2 separate regions of the Homo sapiens genome follow, and region 1 is linked to region 2. The links come from fine-mapping of genetic effects on gene expression. A gene starts in region 2. The other region holds a variant in brackets. All regions are shown on one strand. Distances are from middle to middle.

Region 1 (4,382 bases), 42 kb after region 2:
TAGAGTCTTGGCTCTTTCCTGAGCTTTCAGACTTACCTCATTTATTGAAAGCGGTCAGTAAGACGACGGGGGAGGAGTGCGGTTTGATTTTCAGTCCCTGGGTAGAACTGAAGCGCTCTTGGGAGCATCTGTCACATTCTCCCATTTAGGCCTTTGGGAGTTTTGGAGGCTTGCTGCTGTACCGATCGTTGGAAAAGCCTTTCCTCAGGAGGTGCCTTGTTGACTTGATCACCCGAGGTAGCTCCCAGGCACTTGCCTGTAGAGCTGAGATGGCCTCTGCCATCCTGGGGCCCTCATGGGGGCCCCCTATTCCCCAGGCGTTTCACTCTGCTCCACTAGCTGGATCCCTGCCCCGGCATGCGGTGCACCTCAACGAGCCCTGTCCCCTGGCCATCTGTCCCCTGGCACGCCGTCTGTCCCCTGCTCGAGGGCCTTTGGGCTCTGACGATCTCACATGGGGTTATAAGGTGATTGATTCTCTACTGACATAGAAAGCTTTTTGTGCAAGTTGAGGGGGTTTGATGTCTTTGAGCTTTTAATTATAATCCTTGTTTGGATTCATACTTCACTTAATGGAATTACAGCCTGAGGGCTGTGAATGGACGCATTCCTGTAACAGCATTGCTGCGTTCTCAGCTTCTCACTCTTCACGTAAAGGTGTGGCTGCTCTTCCTGTGGTTCAGGTGTATGCCAGCTTTCCATATTTTTATTAATGGCATCGCCTCCAATGGACTCCAGTCTGGAAGGACAACGAAGTGAGATGTGTAAACCCCACCCACCGGGCTAAGAGAGCCTGTTTTACGCTTCTAAACGGTCTTTTTCACTGAAGTTTACAAACAGTTTGCACTTGAATTCATAATGATAGTGCTGCTGTAAATCTGCCTTTTAAAAAGTGATGATAGGAAATTGTCCTTCAGCTTTGAAGCTTAGCTAGTGCGCAAGTCAAGCCTTTAATAACTAGAGTTTGCTGGTTGAAGGTAAAAGATAGAATAATAAAGCATTCTTCTTTCTGAAATAAAATGTAGTCACCGTCATAAATGCTGCTGGCGGTCCTCCCTTACACTCCTCTGAACACTAACATTTTACAAATCCTTTTCTCTATGTGTATCCTATTCAGTAATGCCAGGTGGGCACTTACAGGTTTAAGGGTAAGTCTGCTTTTTAGAGTCAGGTGACAGCACCCTGTGGTGTCCTCCCTTACTCAGCGCCTGTGTTCTTCTTTGTAGCCACGAAGGAAGACAGGAGGTCCGAGGAGAAAGCGGCAGCCATGGCAGCCTCAAAGAAAACAGCCCCTCCAGGCTCCGCGGTGGGCAAGCAGCCTGCACCTAGAAACCTCGTGCCAAAGAAGTCTTCTTTTGCTAATGTGGCAGCAGCCACACCAGCCATTAAAAAGCCACCCTCAGGTTTCAAGGGCACCATCCCCAAGAGGCCATGGCTCTCCGCTACCCCATCGAGTGGTGCTTCAGCTGCCAGGCAGGCCGGACCGGCACCTGCAGCGGCAACGGCTGCCTCCAAGAAGTTCCCTGGCTCCGCTGCTTTGGTGGGAGCCGTAAGGAAGCCAGTGGTACCTTCTGTTCCAATGGCCTCGCCAGCCCCAGGACGCCTTGGGGCTATGAGTGCTGCACCATCGCAGCCAAATTCACAAATTCGGCAAAATATCAGACGCTCCTTAAAAGAGATTTTGTGGAAAAGGTGGGCTGTTCTGCTTGATTTCTTACCCATTAAAATGGAAGGGCTTTCATTAGAGTGTGGCTGCAGGATTGCCTCACTGTTCAAAAAGTTTAATATACACAAGTGTCTTATGTAGTTCCTTTTTTTTATTCTGTTCAGAGTCAATGACAGCGATGACTTAATCATGACAGAAAACGAAGTAGGAAAAATTGCCCTCCATATTGAGAAGGAGATGTTTAACTTGTTTCAAGTTACAGATAATCGCTACAAGAGTAAATATCGCAGCATCATGTTCAACCTGAAGGACCCTAAAAATCAGGTGTGTGCCTGGTGTCGGTGCATTGGAGTATTCCTGTTCTGTTCGCTGGGTGCTAAAGGGATCAACCAATATTTTGAGATGTTCGTGTCCTTTCCAGGAAAGCT[A/G]AGACGTTTCTTTCTCCTCTGTGATCCTTCTGCCGCCCACGTATTGTTGCACTGGCGTTGAGCGTCCTGGAAACCCCTTCCCTTCCCTGCCTTAACTAGGGTCGCGTCCGCTTCCTGGCTTCCCTGAAGTCCACCTTTTATCACCACATTAGTCTCCTGTAAACATTGCTGTAAAGGTACAAGCCAGTCGCTTCACTGGGCTCCAAAATAAAGTCCAGTTCTTCATCCCAGTGTATGAGGGTGTCCGTATTCCGGCCTCAGACAGCCTTTTCCACCTTATTTTCTCATATTCCTCATCAGCCGAGTGAGCCTGATGGTTTGGGCTGCTTGAGTTCTCACCACTTGGAGCAGGGGCTGCTCACGCCCAGGTAGTGGGATCAGTCCTTCCTCACTGCAGCATGGGCCATGCGACGAGGACAGAAACTCCAGCTGGGAGGGATAGGCCGCCGGGCTGACAGCCTTGTGGTGTTCTCTCTCCATCGGCCTCCAGGCTCCTCCCTGTTTAGAATTTTAGGATAATGAAATACCCTGACTTTGCATCTCACCATTGAACAGCCCTAAACAGAAATGATTTCTTCCTTCCTTTGTTCCTGACGCTACCTTTTTGACTTGTGTCCACCTTGTGTACATAATTGTTTTTCCTGAGGTGTTGTGTGTTGTTTTTTTTTTAGCAGAGCCAGTGCAGCACAGGCCGTGAAACCCACTGTTGAACCTTATTACCTGTGCTCTCTGGGCTCCCATTTGCTCACAGCAGGGATATCCTGGGGCGCACTCTCATAAGGCCGTTTGGGGAGTTAGGTCACACCCTGCAGGGAGGGCTCTGCCCAGTGCCACACGCAAGTGGGCCCTGAGGGCCTTTGTCCTGTGCCCGCTAAACTTCTGGGCAGCTGTGTTTTCCAGAAGCTCTCTGTATTGACAGATATAGGAATATTATTTGAGTAAATGAAAAATACTTGTTTATAGGGACTCTTCCATCGTGTTCTGCGTGAGGAAATCTCTTTGGCGAAACTTGTGAGACTGAAGCCAGAAGAACTTGTATCTAAAGAGCTTTCCACGTGGAAAGAGAGGCCAGCGAGATCTGTGAGTGCTGAGGGGTACCTGCGGAGGCACCCAGGACTCGAGCTTAATAGAAATAAATTCATAGACGGCTGCATAAGCGATGCTTTCCTCCTAGAAAACAAGGCCTAAGCTCTGTTTCGTCTTTTTCATTTCAGGTGATGGAGTCCAGAACTAAACTGCACAATGAAAGCAAGAAGACGGCCCCCAGGCAGGAGGCCATCCCCGATCTGGAGGACTCTCCGCCAGTGTCGGATTCAGAGGTAAGCATTTGGGAGATTTTGTGTTCACCGAGAATAGACTAATCCATCCCAAATGTTTTGAGGTTATCTTAAATTATTGGGCAGGACCTGAGCTTACAGCAGGTGTATGTCATTGTGGCATTCCTCAGTCCTTGTATTAGATGGTCCTTTTTTCTCCCCCGTGGGTCTCAATCCCATGAGACTGCTTTTCTTGTGTGTGGTTAATTTGGAGCTGAGTTTGGAGAAGAAACGACCTCACTTTTTTTTCTTTTTCTTTTTTAGGAACAGCAAGAGTCAGCACGTGCTGTCCCTGAGAAGAGCACAGCGCCGCTTCTCGACGTCTTCAGCAGCATGTTGAAAGACACCACCAGTCAGCACCGCGCACACCTCTTCGATCTCAACTGTAAAATTTGCACAGGTGAGCACAGTGCAGGGGATGGAGCCTTGGAGCTGAGACTAAACTTGATTTTGTTAAAAATCACTGAACCTCCTAAAAGCAACCGCACGTAAGCTTAAACACGCAGAAGGGCCAGAATGATTTCCTGCCCTGCCTTTAGAGTATTGCTTTCGGCTTTGTGTGAGAAACACCAGTGTGCCGGCTGGGTTTCTCACAGAGCCTTTCCTCGCCTTCTTCAGGCCAGGTTCCCTCCGCAGAAGATGAGCCAGCTCCGAAAAAACAAAAATTGTCAGCTTCTGTTAAGAAAGAAGACTTAAAATCAAAGCATGACAGCTCTGCACCTGACCCAGCTCCGGATTCAGCTGATGAGGTGATGCCGGAGGCTGTGCCTGAAGTTGCCTCTGAGCCAGGCCTAGAAAGTGCTTCTCATCCAAATGTGGACAGAACGTATTTCCCTGGGCCTCCAGGAGATGGCCATCCCGAGCCCTCCCCGCTGGAAGACCTGTCCCCCTGCCCAGCCTCCTGTGGGAGCGGGGTGGTCACCACCGTCACAGTGTCCGGCCGGGACCCCAGGACCGCTCCAAGCAGTTCAT
Region 2 (4,382 bases):
ACTCCAGCCTGGGCGACAGAGCGAGACTCCGTCTCAAAAAAAAAAAAAAAGAAAAAAAAGAAAAGAAAAAGAGAGTTGCAGGAGAGGCCAAATCTGCCGTGAGTTTTATCAGGAACAACAAGACAAAATACATGACATGTGCTTTAGCAACAAATATGTACGTGGCAAACCTATTTTGTTTGTTTTTTTTTAAATAAGGGCATGAAAGCTGACACTCAGGAGGGGGTTACCTGTGGGAGGGGCAAATGGCTGAAGCCCCAGAGGCAGCTGTTCCGGCTTTGGGAGAATGGGTGGATACCTGAGACAGGCAGGGGCACGCCACCGTCCACTCTGTCTTTCTCTTTTGCCACTGATACATACGTTACACATACTACTTTATACGAAGTACTGCTAAAGTGTTTCAATAAATTAAAAAACTTTGGTCTCTTGGCTGAAAATGGGATGAATGCAGGGTGGTGAGATCTGAGCAGCCAGTCCCTTAGGGAGACACCCAAGCGAGAGAGAACATCGGCAGAAGAGATGGAGAGCAAGGTGAGATCAAGATGCTTTGGCCAGAGTCAATGGCTGCTGCTAGACAGATTACCGGACAAAAGAGAGGGAAGAATAGAAGATGGTCACAGGTTTCAAGCATGAGAGGCCCTGCAAGATGGGGCCACAAATAAGGAGGAAGGACTGGAAGAAGAACAGGTTTGAGAAGCAGGGCAAGTTTGACGTGACTATTAGACATGCGTCTGGAGAAATCAAGCAGGTGTCTGAATTACAGATCCTGAGCTCAGAGCTGAAAACATGAATTAGTGAAATAAGGGGCGGGGGGGGCGGTGCTGGGGCACAGGGATATTTAAAGCCAAGAATTCAGCAAAGACCATAGGAAGAGCGTAGATAGGGAATGAGAATCGCCATTACTTGGAGGATGCCAACCTTGAAGGTAAAGCAGAGAAAGTGGCACCAGCAGAAGAAAACTTGATGTGGAGCGGCAGGTAAAGTGGAGGAGAAACCAGGAGTCGCTGTCACACACGAACACCCATCTTTCGTTGTCAACTGCAAAACTCACTGAGACCAACTTTTTATTCACGACAATTAATGGTAACTTAAGGACTCATTTTCTTTTTCTTTTTTTTTTGAGACAGAGCCTCGCTCTGTCGCCCAGGCTGGAGGGCAGTGGCGCGATCATGGCTCACCGCAGCCTCGACCTCCTGGGCTCAAGCGATCCTCCCACCTCAGCCTCCAGAGTAACTGGGACAACAGGAGCGCACCACTCTGCCTGGCTAATTTTTTTATTTTTAGCAGAGAAGGGAGTCTCGCTGTTGCCACGGCTGGTCTCGAACTCGCGGGCTCAAGTGATCCGCCCACTTCGACCTCCGCCACCGCGCCCGGCCCTAGGACCAACGTTAAGAGCTCCCTAGGAAAAGGCACCTTTTCTCTCGGCCCATTCGGTGATCGGCACTCACAGCGCTTCCACTCCGGGCAGTTACGTGCGCCCATGAAAAGCAACAACTTTGTAGAACTGGCCAGTCCTGTTAGCAGGAAGAACTCGGTAGTCTCAAACTCCAGCATAAAAAGATTCAGCAGAAGAAAACACCCGTGTGCTGAAGACTCCTACTTTCCATGCCACACTTTACATCCTCACCCGCTCGGTTTCTGCTTTAAAGCAGCAGATTTTATTAAAAAGACTTCGTTACGGACGTCGCTCCTCCACAGAGACAGCTACCGCCGCCCCTCAGGCTGGCCGGGACCGCCCCAGAACACCAGCGCCTGAGGCCGCGCGCCTGGAGGCTGAGCCCTGACTGCCCCCTGGGCACCGGCGCGGGGCGGCCGTCCGGGCCTGGACTCACTGCGCGCCCCAATTCCGCACCTGCCAGCGCCGGCGCTTCCAAGGCCCCCAGAGCGGGGGCGGCGCGCACCCCGGCCACATCCCGCCTGCCCGCCCGGCCCGGCCCCGGGAGACGCTCGGCCCGGCCGCCCGGGCCCGCCGCCGCCATCTTACCGTGCGGAACCTGCCTCCCGCGCTGCGCGGTCTGGGCGGCTGCGGCTCCGCAGCCTCTCCTGGGCTGGGGAGAGGTGGCGGCCGCCGGGGCGCCCGAGTAGAAGGAGGCAGAGGTGGGGGCCGCGGCGGAGGCGGGGGCGGGGGCGGGGGCGGGGAGCGGGAGGGCAGGCGCACCGGAGGCCGCCCCTCAGCACCTCTCGCGACAGCAAGAGAGCGCGAGAGCGCGAGCCGATGACCAATGAAGCGCCCCCGCGAGGGGGCGGGGCGGACGGCCTCCCGGAAGCGCGGAACCTCAGCTTCCGTACTTGCGCAGAACTCCCCTCGCGGCGACCACGCACTACGGGTTGGCGCCAGAGTCAAAAGGCGTCGGCCCTCTGGCAAGATGGCTGCTGCGGAGGCGTTGGAGCGCGGAAATCTGGAACCGGGATGGCGACGTCTACACTGAGTCGGAGGCGAAGGTCCCAGCTTTTTTCCTGTCGTTTGCGTGAGGCCGCACGGGGTGGGGCGGGGGAAAGGCGCCGGGTGTCCGCGGCCGCCCCTCAGACGGGGAGGGAGTCCCCTCCCGACCGGCGGCCTTCCAGGGCTAGTGTCCCTGAGGTCCAGGGAGAGACGGCTGACCCGAGACCGGGCTGGGCGAGAGCTGTGCTGTCTGCGCGTTGAAGCGAGTTCCCCCGCTTTACTCGAGATGTTGTTGAGCGCGTCCTCACTCGAGGCCAGGTGGGGAATCAGAAGGGCCCTGCCCTCAGGGCGCCTCCCATGGGCTACGCCGAAGGGCGGGACGCGGCCAGGGCGCGCGGGACAAAGGAGACCCCACTTGCTTGCGGGGCGGAGTCCCGGCGGCGGCGCGGGGCAGGGCCGGGGTTACTCGGTGACTGGAGACCCTCCCGGCAGGAGCGCGGGTTGAGGCCGCACTTGGGTATTTGCGCGTTTACTTGCTTATTGCCTGTCCGCTCAGGAGGAATGCGAAGTCTGTCATTGCAGGGTCCCATGTTTCCGTTGCTGGGAAGTACCTTAAAATATTTGATAGAGCCGAAGGAAGAAATAGAGTCCTTGAGGGGCAGCTCCTGATTTCATCTGTGAGGAATTCACGGGACGGCTTCTTTCTGAAGTCAGGGGTGAGGTGGTTTCGTGTGTTTGCTTACAAGCGAGCTGAACAACGTGTAAGCTATGTCGGTCGGTCTACTCAGCGACAGTAAGTCCAGTTCGGCAAATAGGTTGGAGGAGACTGATTTTGGACATTTTCCGTTAATCGAAAGAGCTAAATCTGCAGGTATAAGGTCTTGACAAAATTATGCTTCATATGCAGAGGCAGTACATGCCAGTAATTTTTTCATTTGCAACTACATAACCCTATGGGAAACAGTTATTGGTCTTTATTTAGTTATTTATTTTGAGACGAAGTCTCACTCTCGCCCAGGCTGGAGCGCAGTGGCGCCATCTCGGCTCACTGCAACCTCCGCCTCCCGGGTTCAAGCGATTCTCCTGCCTCAGCCTCCCGAGTAGCTGGGACCACAGGGGCGCACCACCACGCCCAGCTAATTTTTGTATTTTTAGTAGAGACGGGGTTTCCCCTTGTTGGTCAGGCTGGTCTCAGTGTCTTGACCTCGTGATCCGCCCGCCTCGGACTCCCAAAGTGCTGGGATTACAGGCGTGAGCCACCGCTCCCGGCCTATTTTGATTTTATTTTATTCTATTTTTTGAGAAGGAGTCTCACTTTGTTGCCCAGGCTGGAGTGCACTGTCATGATCTCGACTCACTGCAACCTCCGCCTCCTGGGTTCAAGTGATTCTCCTGCCTCAGCCTCCCGAGTAGCTGGAACTACAGGCACCCGCCACCACGCCCGGCTACTTATTTTGTATTTTTAGTACGGGTGGGGTTTCACCATGTTGGCTAGGCTGGTCTCGAACTCCTGACCTCAAATGATCACCCACCTCGGCCTCCCAAGGTGCTCGGATTACAGTCATGAGCCACCGCATCCGGCCTATTTTTATTTTTTAAAGTTTTTTAGAGACGGGGTCTTGCCTTCTTGCCCAGGCTGGTCTCGATCTCCTGGGCTCAAGCCATCCTCCCGCCTCGGCCTCTGGGAGTGCTGGGTTTACAGGCGTCAGCCACCATGCCCAGCCTGAACGTCAAGGAGAAAGTGTGCAAGGGGATGCACGAGCAGAAAGCTTGAGTGCTAGCGCCTTAAGGCGACATTCCTTAACATTCCAGTCCAAAGAGGCTGTCTCAGTGCCTGCCTGTGGGTCACAGGTTAATGCTCCTCCTCCCAACAGCCAACCGGTTACCAAGTCCTGCTCGAGCCCCCTCCTTAATCCTCTCTAGAAACTGGCTCCTTTGTGTTGTTTCCCAGCCTCTTCCACCATAACGTGGAAGCCATCATCTTTGCTTTTTGGATTGC

Direction of the effects. Alleles are on the strand shown, and positions count from the first base shown. SD is a standard deviation of normalised expression in the study named.
As copies of G replace A in region 1, the expression in tibial nerve of the gene that starts at base 2,091 in region 2 goes up (small effect, 0.21 SD a copy in GTEx).

What was found. PIP is the estimated chance that this variant, and not a neighbour inherited with it, causes the effect.
Region 1: its variant is the best candidate, but not a certain one, in a credible set for the expression of GID8 in tibial nerve (GTEx, PIP 0.68).

The regions. Positions count from the first base shown.
Region 1 is chr20:62,893,841-62,898,222 of GRCh38, reverse strand. DIDO1 (death inducer-obliterator 1) reads left to right here. Exons shown (of 16, transcript NM_001193369.2): 7 at 1,227-1,692; 8 at 1,831-1,990; 9 at 3,058-3,174; 10 at 3,309-3,413; 11 at 3,675-3,810; 12 at 4,029-4,382. Among named protein-coding and RNA genes, the nearest start is that of SNORA117, 13 kb to the right of the region's middle. The variant A/G (reference allele first, on the strand shown) is at 2,095.
Region 2 is chr20:62,935,856-62,940,237 of GRCh38, reverse strand. GID8 (GID complex subunit 8 homolog) reads right to left here and starts at 2,091. Exons shown (of 5, transcript NM_017896.3): 1 at 1,985-2,091. It also overlaps a transcript of DIDO1 not described here. RefSeq lists silencers at 1,721-1,850, 1,921-2,150, 2,521-2,570, 2,841-2,890 and an enhancer at 1,357-2,025.